Linked DNA regions of Homo sapiens. The protein of the gene in region 2 interacts with the protein of the main gene of each other region in a pairwise test. Each region holds a gene or a part of one and is shown on either strand. Other genes may lie near its edges.

What was found. Proteins that work in one complex are often made in the same cells at the same time.
Region 1: the proteins of SEC22A (region 2) and MS4A3 interact in binary tests that used the Homo sapiens proteins (3 or more experiments, as listed by UniProt).

What each region holds. Positions count from the first base shown.
Region 1 is NC_000011.10:60,052,249-60,059,686, reverse strand, and holds the start of MS4A3 (membrane-spanning 4-domains subfamily A member 3), read right to left. Parts: upstream 3,023-7,438; 5' UTR 2,947-3,022; intron 1-2,946. UniProt on the Homo sapiens protein: Hematopoietic modulator for the G1-S cell cycle transition. Modulates the level of phosphorylation of cyclin-dependent kinase 2 (CDK2) through its direct binding to cyclin-dependent kinase inhibitor 3 (CDKN3/KAP).
Region 2 is NC_000003.12:123,239,943-123,246,965, reverse strand, and holds part of SEC22A (vesicle-trafficking protein SEC22a), read right to left. Parts: intron 1,068-7,023; coding exon 952-1,067; intron 1-951. UniProt on the Homo sapiens protein: May be involved in vesicle transport between the ER and the Golgi complex.

The sequences.
Region 1 (7,438 bases), on a different chromosome or scaffold from region 2:
ATGAAGTAGAAGCCATTATCCTTAGAAAGCTAATACAGGAACAGAAAACCAAATACCACATATTCTCACTTATAAGTGGGAGCTAAATGCTAAGAACAAATGGACACATAGAGGGGAACAAAACAACTGGAGATTATCAGAGAGAGGAGGGAGGAGATCGGGAAAAATAACTATTGAGTACTAGGCTTAGTACCTGGGTGACAATCTGCACAACACACCCCTGTGGCACGAATTTACCTATATAACGAACCTGTACATGTACCCGTAAACCTAAAATAAAAGCTTTTTATTGAAAAAGAAAGTATAGTATCTTAATTTCTACTCTTTGTTACAAATTATATACTAGATCCATTTTTCTAATAACTTAATTTTTTGTCAAGCTAAATACACGCCACTTTCAGGATGTTTACCTTTCTGATACTCTACTCTGGGGGTGTGTATGACTCATTTAAGTGTGATGACAAATTTACTAAGCATTGACTAAAAGTGAGAGTCAAGCCATGTTTTATTATTACACTGGGAATTGCTATAAAAATTCATAAAATTCTCTACCAATACTGATAAAACATTTATTATAAATGTCATAAAATTTTGCTACCAATACTCTTCATCAAAGTTTCCTACCAATATTGATTTTCATGCCAAGATTAAATTACATTCTGTATGTATTTAAGTATGGATAAATGTGAAATGACAAGGAACCCTTAACCCCCCGTGTTCAACACTGTACAGAACCCAAGAGCGAGGGAAGATCAATAAAGCTTAAAGCAAACTCTATGTGAATAAGTTCCTAACGTAATTATCTGCAAAAAGTATAAATAAGAATAGCCAAAAAGCCAAGACTTCAAATTTATCCACTGGGAAATTTGTGTGTATTTTGGATTAAATATCTAATGAACTAAGATGCATGCAATACGGAGAATGTTGCTGCTTTATGACCAGATAATCTCTCGCCTACGTCTCCTGCCTCACCCCTCACCCATCCCTATCTCAAAACTCCATCCAGCCTTATTTTCTTGATTTGTCTTCCTTCAGAAGTTCTAAACCCTCAAATGTCTTCAATCCTCTGTGCTATCCCCCATTCCTGAAAGACAAGTCCCCTCAAGCTTCACCTGGATAATTTCTGCTCTCCTTCCAGACTGAATTTTTTTTTTTTTTTTTTTTTTTTTTTTTTTTTTTTGAGTTGGAGCTTTGCTCTGTCTCCCAGGCTGGAGTGCAGAGGCCCGATCTCAGCTCACTGCAACCTCCGCCTCCTGGGCTCAAGCTATGATCCTGCCTCAGCCTCCCAAGTAGCTGGGATTACAGGCGTGCACCACCACACCCAGCTAATTTTTGTACTTTTAGTAGAGATGGGGTTTTACCATGTTGGCCAGGCTGGTCTCGAACTCTTGACCTAGGTGATCCACCCACCTCAGCCTCCCAAAGTGCTGGGATTACAGGCGTGAATCAATGCGCCCGGCCCTTCCAGACTGATTTTCAGCCCACATGTCATACTTCCAGGATGCTGTTTTTAGTCCTGGCCAACTCTGGAAGAAGCATGCACCCCTTTGGGTTGCTCTCAAAATTTCCTCAACTTTCCTTCTCATACCACTTAATCAGCCTGAGCTTTAATTGCCTGGATACTTGTCTGTTACCTCGTTGTCTACTCATCACTGCAACTCCAGTGCCTAGCTCAGAATCATCAGATGGCAAGCACTCAGTTAACACACATGTTCAATCAGTAACCAGACTTTTGGTCCAGCCCAAGGTAGCCATCCTGATAAATGATGATGGAAAATACCTCTGCAAGCACTGGAGCCTCTCATCTCAAGAAACTCCAAGAGCATTTCTGAAGAGAGCAAATATCTAACCATATTATTTAACTTGATTTGTTTCAAATAATCAAAATAATCAGGGAGAATTTTCAGCCTCCAGGTGAAACAAACTATGTTTTCTAAAATTTGGTTAAATCAGTTATTTATTTTTAAAAAAATCAGAGAAATGGTCCGGGTGCAGTGGCTCATGCCTGTAATCCCAGCACTTTGGGAGGCAGAGGCGGGAGGATCTCAAGGTCAGGAGATTGAGATCATCCTTGCTAACATGGTGAAACCCTGTTTCTACTAAAAACACATAAAATTAGCTGGTTGTGACAGCACGCGCCTGTAATCCCAGCTACTCAGGAGGCTGAGGCAGGAGAATTGTTTGAACCCATGAGGCGGAGTTTGCAGTGAGCCGAAATCGTGCCATTGCACTCCAGCCTGGGTGACAGAGCGAGACTCTGTCTCTCTCTCACACACACACACACACACACAAAATCAGAGAAATGTAGATTTTCTAGGAAACTGCCAGTTAAGTTCATCTCTCCAGCTCTTAGTATGTGGCAGGCATTTGTTCTAAGGGCTTTATCCATGTTTACTAATTTAGTTCTCACAACATCAGATGAATGGGTACTACTGCTATGATCCTTTCCATCTAACAGATGAAGAAGCTGAGGAACAAAGAAGTTAAGTAGCTTTCCCAAGCCCACACAGCCAGCAATTTGAGAAGCTAAAAATCAGAACCTCAAGCTATCATTACACTCCACTGTCCCCTGAGCTATGCTAAAATGCACTTTGCAGACCCCATACTTCAGGCATATCGAGACCACCCCTCATCATCAGAGCTGGCAGACAAACTCAGGTGCAGCCAGTGGGATTTAATGTACCTAAGAGGTGCGTGTGCATGTGTGTGTATCCATACCCACATTTTCCCAAAGAAATTGCTGTATTATTATGTCTAACACTTTTTATCATGGCTCCAAAGGAATCATCACATCCTAAAGAGAAGCCATGTTCACAGTTAAATGTTCCAAACCTCTACATAGCAACCAAACAGAGACCTTTGCAGACATCCCCAGTAGTCCACTGGGAGGCATTTTAACGAAAGATATAAAAGAAAGGGGAATGTCTATGGAGAGGGAATCTATACCTTGGAGGCTTCAGGCTTTGGCAGACGGCTTTCCTCCCAAGTCCACCTTGTCGCAAGTAGGAGACACTCAGAAAAGATCACTACAGCATCTTTTCCCGATAACGGAAGCCTCCACAGACTTAACGTTATCTTTGCCTTATGCAACACTTTAGAGGACTTGGTGAAAGTGTTTTGCGGGCTGACTGACCAGTGTGCTAATCACATCTGCATTTGGGGCCTCGCTGATCCATTGTGTTTCCCCAGGGCTTAGTGATGATTAGGAAACTGGTGTGAGGGATAACTGTCTTCTGGCTTTCAGATGTTGCTTAACACATTGCTGGAACAGGAAACACAAGCAACAATATGGGTAGACAAGTGGGAAGAGGTTGTGGGTTGGAGGTAGAACAGTGTTAGGTGCATAGCAAGAAGAGACAAAGTCACACTGTAAGAGAAGCATCTGGAGGAGGGAGGTGGTCACTCAGGCACTTATTTTACATGATGTGCCAGCAACGGTGCTATGTACCTTATATGCGTGATGACATTCAATTCTTACATGCTTAGAGAGGTTAATTACTTTGCCCAATATCACAGATATAATAATAATGCTAATTATTGTTTAAATGTATTAAATGGTTACTACATACAGGTCATTGTTCTGAATGCTTTACATATGTTAATTCATCTCATCCTCACAATAACCCAGGACCCAGGTACTACTATTAACCCGATGTTATGGTAGAGAAAACTATGGTATAGAAATGTTACCCAGCTTTCCTAAAATTTAACTGGAAAAGCCCTGTGCAAAATCTCTGTTTTGTACAATGGTGAAGCCCGAAGTGTGCCTGTTATCCTAATATGATTGTTAAAACCCCTCCTTTCAGTTTCTTTTTTGTTTTTTGGTTTTTTTAGGTTTTTTGTATTTGTTTGTTTGTTTCGTTTGTTTATTGAGATGGCGTCTCACTCTGTCATCCAGGCTGGAATGCAATGGTGCAATCTTGGCTTACTGCAACCTCCGCCTCCCGGGTTCAAGCAATTCTCCTGTTCCAGCCTCCTGAATAGCTGCAACTACAGGCATGCACCACCACTCCCAGCTAATTTTTGTATTTTTAGTAGAGACAGGGTTTCACCGTATTGGTCATGCTGGTCTCGAACTCCTGACCTCCGGTGATTCACCTGCCTCAGCCTCCCAAAGTGCTGGGATTACAGGCATGAGCCATCGCGCCCGGCCTCCTTTCAGTTTCAAAAGTGGCCAAATTATATGCTTATCCTAAATAAATGTCCTAAAATAGGCAATAGAAAGATCAGAGCCAAGTGACAAGGAGTAAGGAAGTAGGTAACGTGAAGATTCAAACCACAATCCTTATGAAGGTCACAGGGCCAGGCCTGAGAGAAAGAATGAGGGCACAGCCCCTGATCCATGCCCCAGGGGAGTCTGTGAGACAGAGAAGAATGTTCACAGCAAGGAAAGCGAGGTCCTAGTCCTACAAACAGGAGCGTCAGTGGGGACGTGATCACAGGAAAGAGAAAGAGGGCCAGTTACCAAGACCAAAACATAGTGTGTGGGCAGAGATTGTGAATATGAAATGAGCAGGGGCCCAGTTGCCAGAAAATTTCTGCACAGGTGCTTCTGCTAAGAGAGCTGGCACCTGAGCCCTAGGGCAGCGGCTCTCCAGGGTCTACATTTAGGAGCGAAGGAAGGGACTGATGAAAGAGAAGACAGAGACAGAGACAGAAGTCAGAAGGAAATAGCCAAAAGGAAGGTGGTAAAGATAAGATCCTTCCCTCCCCGTTTTATCCAGAACCATTGCAAATGGAATACTGAAGAAGAAAGAGATGACAAGAAAATGCCTTCAGCGAAGAAGAGAAAGAAATCTGAAGAAATGAAAGGAAAGAGTGGATGCTTTCAACATGCTCTTTTTGAATTTGGAGCTGTAGAAAAAGCCATGAAAGGAAGTTACTTAAACTCTAAGACTTCGGTTCTCCCATTTGTAAGTTGAAGATCATAGTGCCCACTTTGGGGTATAAAGTATAAATGACAGAATGCATGTAAAGGTCTTAATAACTAAGATCTTCACATGAGTTCAAAGTAAATAATAAAAATGATTGAGCTCTTTCTTCAATTCCTTAGAGAATGATTGTGAGAAACTGCTTTCAAAGGAAGATTCACAAATAAAAATTTAATATACTTACCATGTACAACATGTTTTGACACATGTGTGCATTGTGAAGTCACTAACACAAAGCAGATAATCTACTGATCACATCAGATCACATAATCATCTTTTTTTTTTTTTGGTGGTGGTGGTGAGAACATTTAAGATCTCCTCTCTTAAACTTCAAGTACATAGTACAGTATTAACTTCAGTTATCATGCTGTTCATTAGATCTGCAGAACATATGTATCTGACTGTACCTCATTAAAGCTGAGGGGGGAACAGTAAAATAAATACATAAAAATTATTTTTATTTTTTATGTATTTATTTGAGACAGAGTCTCACTCTGTCACCAGGCTGGAGTGCAGTGGCGCGATCTCAGCTCACTGCAAGCTCCGCCTCCGGGTTCAAGCAATTCTCCTGCCTCAGACTCCCGAGTAGCTGGGACTACAGGCACACACCACAACGCCCAGCTAATTTTTGTATTTTCAGTAGAGATGGGGTTTCACCACGTTGGGCAGGATTGTCTCGATCTCTTGACCTCGTGATCCACCTGCCTCGGCCTCCCAAAGTGCTGGGATTACAGGCATGAGCCACCACGCCCGGCCCCCTATTTTTTCCATTTTTGTAAGTACCTAGTGTATATACTTATGAGGTACATGAGACATTTTGATACAGGCATGAAATGCATAATACTCACATCATGAAGAATGGGGTATCCATCCCCTTAAGCAGTTATCCATTGCATTGCAAACAATCCAATTACACTCTTTATCTTAAAAATGTACAGTTATTGACTACAGTCACCCTGTTTTGCTATCAAATAGTGGGTCTTATTTATTCTATTTTTTTGTACCCATTAACCATCCCCACCTCCCCTCCCAGGCCCCCACTACCCTTCCCAGCCTCTGGTAACCATCCTTCTACTTTCTGTCTTCATGAGTTCAATTGTTTTGGTTTTTAGATCCCACAAGTGAGAACATGTGATGTTTGTTTTTCTGTGCCTGGCTTATTGCACTTGACAGAATGATCTCCAGTTCCATTCATGTTGTTGCAAATGACTGGATCTTATTCTTTTTTATGGCTGATAAATAAAAATAAATAAATTAAAAAATTTTTTAAACAAATTAAAAAGGGAAAAATAGAAGATTCATAGACCTTTTTTCCACTTGCATGCAATATTTCCCAATGGCAAGGAGACATGATCAAGGAGAGACTGACTAGCTTTCAGTGCTGAAATACCTTAAAGAATAATCAAGTTCAAAACTCAAGTAGCAAATTTCCAAAAGGAAAAGGAAATCTTCGAGTGAATTCACCTATAGTCTAGCTATTCATTTACAAGTGCCCCATTTGACTAAAAAGCAATATATTTCTCAAGACTTGCTGGTCTTATCTACTTACTAAATATTATTGCTTGCACTGTCTGTTTTACCCCCCCATACACACTCATGCCCATGTGTGTACATATTAAAATCACATTCTTCATGAAGCAGTACCTTTATATATCTTAACACATGTATAAGCTCTTAAAACACTTAACCACCTAAGGTTTTTGACTTTGGGGTGCATTAAACGTGTTTAATTCATAATTTACCAGTTTATAATGTTGCAAAAGTCACAAGTTGAAATCACGTTGAAATGGCATTAGTTACTATAATTGTAAGATTAATAAAAGATTAAGACGGACAAGGATTGTTGTTCCAAGAGGTCTTGAAATAATGAGCCATCAAATAAAACCAACAATCAGAAACTACCTTTGATTCATTCTTGTTTTGACCTCATGCTGTGTTTTCAAATAAACGAGGAAAATGGACTAGAAATCCAATCTTAGCATTTGAATGAAGGCACTGTTGTTTTAGAGGTCCTAAGAAAACTGGAAGAATTTATCATGTCATTTATTGGTAAACATGGAAATAGCCTAGATAGAAAATGCTAATACAACAGTTCTACTTTCAACTACCTAGTGGAATCTTCTGGGAAGTTTATAAGACATTAAATCAGGATATTTGTCATGAACCCAACATGAAGGTGAACTTTTTTTTTTTTTTTTTTTTGAGACAGTCTTACTCTGTTGCCCAGGCTGGAGTGCCATGGCACAATCTCGGCTCACTGCAGCCTCTGCCTCCCAGGTTCAGGCGATTCTTGTGCCTCAGCCTCCTGAGTAGGTGGGATTACAGGGGCACACCACCATGCCCAGTTAATTTTTCTATTTTTTTTAGTAGAGACAGGGTTTCACCATGTTGACCAGGCTGGTCTTGAACTCCTGGCCTCAAGTAATCCACGCGCCTCAAACTCCCAAGGTGCTAGGATTACAGGCATGAGCCACTGCACTCAGCCCAACACAAACATTTTTTAAAGG
Region 2 (7,023 bases):
CGAACAGCTCTGCTGCTGGAACCTGTGATGTCATCTGCTGTTGGCTTTACATGGCTAAACAGATGCAGAAAGATACCCTCTGAGGGTTCCCCAAACTAACAGCAATTTAAAAACAGAATATAAAGTGTGCTCAGTGGATTTTTACAAATGGTATTCTGCACTTAATGCTGACCAAAAAAAGAGGACTGATTCATAATGTGAGAGTGTCAAGAGTTCTTCAGAGAAAGTGAATAGAAATAAGGGAAAGGAAAGCTGTGCAGTCTCAAATGTGCTAAACTTAAAAAAAAATTTCAAAAAGTTTACAAAAAGCATAAGAGAAAAAATTAGTATATTCTGATAGCTATAGCTTCTGAAAGGAACTCCACTTGAAAATGTAATAGTTAGCAATATCTGAATAAATTTGTGGTTTTCTAGGAAGCTCAAGTTTTAAGAAGCCACTAACAAAAAAAGAAAAAGAAGCAGATGAACTAAGTAGGGAATACACAGAAGTGGAATAAACACAGCCCACGTGTGCCCTCTTCATTCTTCCACTGCTCTCTGTCTGATCAGATCTTTCCAGGACCAGTTCAACTCTCCTCCACAAAACCTTCCTTCTCCAATCCTGATTATACTGACCTCTCCCCCTTCCCAACTCTGTGTATTTGGCAATTACTTTCTTGCCTCCCCAGTTCAACTTTCAGTTATGAGACTGCAAGGCCTATGTCACACACATCTTGGGGTCCCCAGGGTGCCTATAAATAGTGCCTCCTAAAGAGCAGATGATAAACATGTGCCAATGGAATCAAAGAAGCCAACCAGTGTTTTTAGAAGGAGGCTAAAGCAGATATAAAAAAACATAGATTTTGAGTATGCACTGTAAATTATACTAATACCCAATCCAATTCAAATCAATTATGTAACCAGTAGAATGAAGAGGCACAGTCACCTGAAATTGCAAAAATAGCACAGTACCTGCAGGAGACTTTCTATAGCATGAAAGCCTCGAATTAAATTCAGAGCTCCACATAAAAGACTAAGGATAAATCCTACAATCCCTGACAGAGTTGCTGGTTCCAGTCGCTGGTGAGCTGGAAAATAAAAGAAATAGTTAGAAATGAACACCAATACCTCACAAAGATGAACTTAGGTAAAACAGAAATTCACTGCTCAACTTAAATGGGTCAAGCAGATACTTCATAGAATTATTTAACACCATATATTCACAATTAAATACTGTTATAAAATGAAAAATGCTTGACAACATAAAAGCTTCATTTCCCTGAAAAATTAACTTATTTTTCTCTTTTTCCTTTTTTTTTGAGACAGGGTCACAATCACAGCTCGCTACAAGCCTCAAACTCAAGGGCTCAAGCGACCCTCGTGCCTCAGATTCCCGACTATCTACGATTACAGGCACGTGCCACCATGCCTGGCTAATTTTTTCTTGAATTGTTTATAGAGACAGAGTCTCACTATGTTGCCCAAGCTGGTCTTGAACTCCCGGCCTCAAGTGATCCTCTGACCTTGGCCTCCCAAAGTGCTGGTATTACAGGCATGAGACATTGCATCTGGCCTTTCTCTATGTTTTTAACAAAGACATGTAACTTGCATTTGGGATAGACAGTGCTAAGGGATGCTCACAACCGGCAGTAAATCATTTAGAAAAAACCTTACTGCATAAATATGTCTACTATTTGCAGGTAGGTGAAAGTATTTGTAAAGGTGACTTTGCTTGGAAATTCATTGCATAATCCTACTTTTTCTGAAAATGCTTAGGAAACATTTTAAAGTACAAACATAGCTTACTTTTAAGCAAAACTTTGCCTTATCTGGGTTCTAGGGCTATAAATATCACTGGATACATGTGAAAGCTCATATATAATCAGCAATCTGAACTCCAAAACAGAATGGAGTCTTATAGCTATGAAGTTCCTGGTCCTCTGAATAACACTGGAAGGTAAAAATGACAAAACACCAGCTGAATAAGTGACCATTTTAGTTTCATAAATACATTCCCTTATCTTCCAGGGCTGCAGCAGCACAAAAGTTATACAATAGCTTCCCTTCATCATCATCTTACGCTTAATAGAATTAACAACAGGGTCTACATGAAAACACATAACTAAATACATAATCATCTAGACCTCAAACAGGAGACAGAGGGAAAGACAACAGAACCACATTTAGAGTATTTTATTTAAATCACTGAAGTGTAAACGCCCTAACAATTAAGTTAATGAGGTGGAACATTAATATAAGGGCGGGTTTAAATCTCTGCAACTTATATTCAGCCATTATAGCAGAACATCTTCCCTAAACAGTTATAAAAACACAAGAATCTACATATCACAAAAAAGTATTTATTCCCCAAGTTCAGCAGAAAGTGCTTATATAACATTTTCTTAAACTTCTCTGGTGCCCAAGCTGCCTGCTCTCAATCAATTTCCTTGATATTGTAATATGACAACAGAAAATTAAATGTCACTATTCAATATTGCTTCCAAGTGTTATATCAGTAAAGAAAAAAAAATTCACGATTTAAAAATCTATCTAATTCGTCTATACATTTAAAGGCATAAAAGCCTTTAAAAAGCATAAGTCTCCTTTAACAAGAACACAGTACACCTTTGCTGAAGGACAGCTGGCGTTGTGCCAAATCACTGTGGGGAAGAAATTCTAGAGATTCCCCCACTTCCGCCCCCACCCACTTCCCAGGTTCTGTGGCTTGTTCCTTGAGAAGTTATCAAGAGAATACTCCATCTGCCCACAACATAAGAAGGTGACACTTCTTAATAATTTCTCATTTTAACAAACTGAACTAGATATTTAATCACATTTTAATGTATTAACTATTTGTTATTTTTTTTACTTCAGTAAAACAGATTTTAGATCCACTATTATCCAAAAATGCTTAATTTGGCACCATTCTAGGTACTATAATATTTGGTGTAGAATGTTTGTAACAATAACAAATAAGAGGCAGTGTAGAAAAACAATAATTTTGCTGAATCCAAAGCAGTGTCATCTGGTCAGTTTTTGTTTTGCTTTTGTTATTATTGCCTTCTCCTATAAAGTCTTTTCTTTAGTCTTCTTGAACCCAAGGATGGCATGTTGATAACAAAATTAAATGTTTCTGAAAATGTACCAATGGTTTATGGAGACTCTGCAAAAGTTCCTAAAGAAGTAAGAATAAACCCCTTAGAACCAAAGGAACCAAAGAGCTATTGGTTACAGTAAATTAATATATTTATTCAGTAAATACTTTCTGGCATGGTTCTGTGTAAGATGCTATGCTTTCGAAGATACAAAAATTGAATTACATATTCTGCCCTCAAGGCACTTCTAGTCTTTTATAAAAGAGATAAAACAGATAAGTATATGAAAGTAATAAGCATTCTAAGCTAAAAGAGGCAAGGAATGATGAAGTGGAAAGATAAAGTAGGGGGAGGGTGGTCTAGAACCAGGAAAGAGCTTTGAAGATAGATAAAATGTAGTCAGGTACAAAGGGGAAGAAATGCATTCCACGCAGAGAAAAGAATGTGAATGTGATGGAGATGGAAATGGGAGAAACGAGTAACAACAGCATCAACAACTACTACTTCTACCAACAGTGACTGCTCTCAACACGCCAGGCACCAAGTGCTTTATATACTTGGTCTCACTGTATCCTTCCAACAACCCAATGCAGTAGGCACTATAATTATCCTGGTTTTCTGCCCCACCCCGCCCCCTCCCCACCCCTCCCAGAATAGGAAAGGTTTAGGGACATTAAATAATTTGCTCATGGGCACAAAGTAAGTACGTGAACTGGGATTTAGATGATTCTGGAATTCATGTTCTCAGCCATTCTGCTATAGGGCATTGCTAGTGGTTTGGTTTGGCTCAAAGCGATGTTTGTGACAAGTGGGGAGAAATAAGGTCAGAAAGGGAGGTGGACACAAATTGATAGTATACAATTCTAGGCTAAGAATTATGGAAAATTAGACAATGGGGAACCACTGAAGAACAAGATTCTCATATGATGAAGGTTATACTTAAAGAAGATTAATCTATTAATGGGTTGTAAAGAGATCAAAAGTAAGGGAGGGAGAAATAATATTTTTCTGAGTACCTTCTCACTAAGCACCCATTGTCTCATTTACCCTTCAGAATGGCATACTTCATGAGGTAGAAATGACTAACTTCTCTGTGACTGAACTGGAATGACTAACTTTTCTGTGCCTAAACTTTCTCATCTGTCAATTAAGATTAAATTATTTTCTATAAGTCAGACAGCCAGAAGGGCCATCTTCACAATTAGCACTTAGGTCTATCTGACTGCAGAGCCCATGCTCTTTCTACAGTTCTACATTAGGAAGTTTGTGGGAGAGTCACTGCAAAAGACTGACTGAAATCAGGGCCTGAATCAGAATAGTCACAGTAGAAATGGGAATCTGAGTGCTTGGGAGTTCATTAAAGAATAAAGCTAAAATTAAAAAAAAAAAAGAAATGGGGAAAAAGAAGTAAGATGTCATGGAGGTTAAAATTATTAGACTTGGCAACTAATTAGATGTGGCAAACAAAAGGGGGAAAAAAATTCAAAGAAATGTTGAGGTTTTACCTCTAGGTGATCGGAAAGATGAGAGTACTGAGCAACAGATCCACAGGAAGAAACTTAAGTTTGATAAAAAATGGGGACATTTTAACATCATATTTGAGGTGATGGTGGGCCGTGTTTAACAAGCAACTGAAGAATGGAATAGCTGGGAGAAGCAGACGAGGTCTGCAACTGAAGGGAAAGGTTTAAATGAGCGTCAAAGAAAGAAGCAGGCCAAGGGAAATCCTTGGTAAACACTGTCAGTAAGGGATGGAAGAAGAGTCAGGGAAGGCAGATGCAGGAGAATCAAGTGAAACCTAGGAAGGAGAGACCATCAAGAAGAAAGATATGGCTAACAGTGCCTATAGATAGGCCAAAAAAAATCTGACCTTAAAGTAAAAAGTATTAGACTTATTGAACAGGAGATGCTAGGATTCTCCTTAAAATTTTTTTTTTTTTTTCCAGAAAAGTGGTTGAGGGCTTTTTAGATCTCACAAATAAGTGAGAACATGCAATGTTTGTCTTTCTGTGCCTGGCTTATTTTACTTAATGATCTCCAGTTCCCTCCATGCTGTTGCGAATGACTGGATCTCATCTTTTTCATGGATGAACAGTACTCCATTGTGTATATGAACCACATTTTCCTTATCAAATTCAGATTGCAAGAGGTTGAACAACTGGCGATGTTAAGAGGTGGAAGCATTAAGTGAATACTACTGAAGTTAAAGGAGAGAAAAACAGGATGAAAGCTTAACAGAGATAATAGGATTGAGAAAATAATTCTTTTTTCTCTTACAGTGTTGGAGGGAGGGAGGAAGACTTGAATACATACATAGGTGGAATGAAATAATTCAGTGAAGATGAAATAGAAGAATCAAGAAAAAGGAAAAATAATTGATGAAGCAAAGTCCCAGAATAGTCCTTATGACGATTCAAAGAGATGGTACCATTCGAAATCTCAAAGATGCCCACAATGCCTAGGGAAACAGACTGTGGAAGATAAGAGAGAAATTTCAAGTCAGTTCCATCTAAATGAGCCTAATTTATTACTGAAGTGTGACTGAATGAGACTAACAGTCTGGCACAAAAACACACTATTCTTTTCATCAGTGAGGCCCTTCTTTATCATCACCACCTGTAAAAATCATGCATATCCTTCAAGGCTCCAAGACCTGAGTCTTCCTTCTTACCTCTTTTGGAGCATGTATCACATTCTACTTTGTGTTTTACTTATTGGATTGTATTTCCCTTTCTCATTCTGAGTACAGTTAATGTGTTTACTGTATTTCTAAAAAATGCCTCCACAAAATTTAGCATAATACTTTAGAGAAAAAAAATGATAAATACCTGTTGGATTATGAAGGGGATGTGTGTGTGTGTGTGTGTGTGTGTGTGTGTGTGTGTGTGTAAGAAAGAGAGATTAGTAAATCTATTTGGCTTGTGGGCACCAGCCAAAACAGAGCAGCATTTTCAGGCAACTGACAAATTTTCTAGAAAATGATAAAATAGATGAAAAATATACAAGTGTCAAAGAAACTGACAGAAGTGTTTCTATCAGTTTAAACCCTAAATTTAGGGTTTTGTGAAGTTTTTTTTTTAAAGCACAACATAAAAGTAAAAAGACTAACAACACTAAATGTCGGTGAAGATGTTGAGTAATCAAAATGCTCACAAATTGCTTGTTGGGAAAGTAAAATCTTACAACTACTTCAGAAAACTGGCAGTTTCTTAAACAGGCAACCTTTTGACCTATCAATTCCACTCCTAATATTTACTCAAGGGAAATGAAAATATATGTCAACAAAAGGATGAATGTTCATCGTAGCTTTATGTGCAATAACAAAAACTGAAACAAGTTTACGTCCATCAGCAAGAGAATAAATAAACAAATTGTGGTACATTCATACAATGGAATACCGCTCAGGAATAAAAAGGAACAAATTACTGAGACAGGCAACATGTATGTATGACATCATGCTGTGCAAAAGAAGCTGAACACAATAGTCACACAATGTAGTCTTCTTTTATATAAAGTTCTGGAACAAAACAAAGTTCAAGTGGAAAAAAATAAAAACAGTCGTTGTCTAGAGGATGGTGGAAATTGACTGAAAAGGGACACAAAGAAACTTTTCGGGGGAGATGGAAATGTCCTATATTGTGATAAGGGTGTTTAGTAATCATGTCTTTTTATTCTGTATTTTTGATGCTTTGACCTCTTGGGCCTTGCTGACCATGGAAGAACTGCCTCTCCCAGGGATAGCTAATTCCTAGTGATGGCAAACAACTTGTCTGAGTCCACCTTTCATACGCATTCCAATCAATCCAGACTCACACTACCAACCAACTCCTCTACAAGGCTCTCACAGCCAGGGCCATTATTTCCCTATCCCAATCATCCCAGGGCCACATGTCAGACAACCAGAGATAGAACCTATGCCCCAGAGTCCATTGAAATTATTCAAACTAGC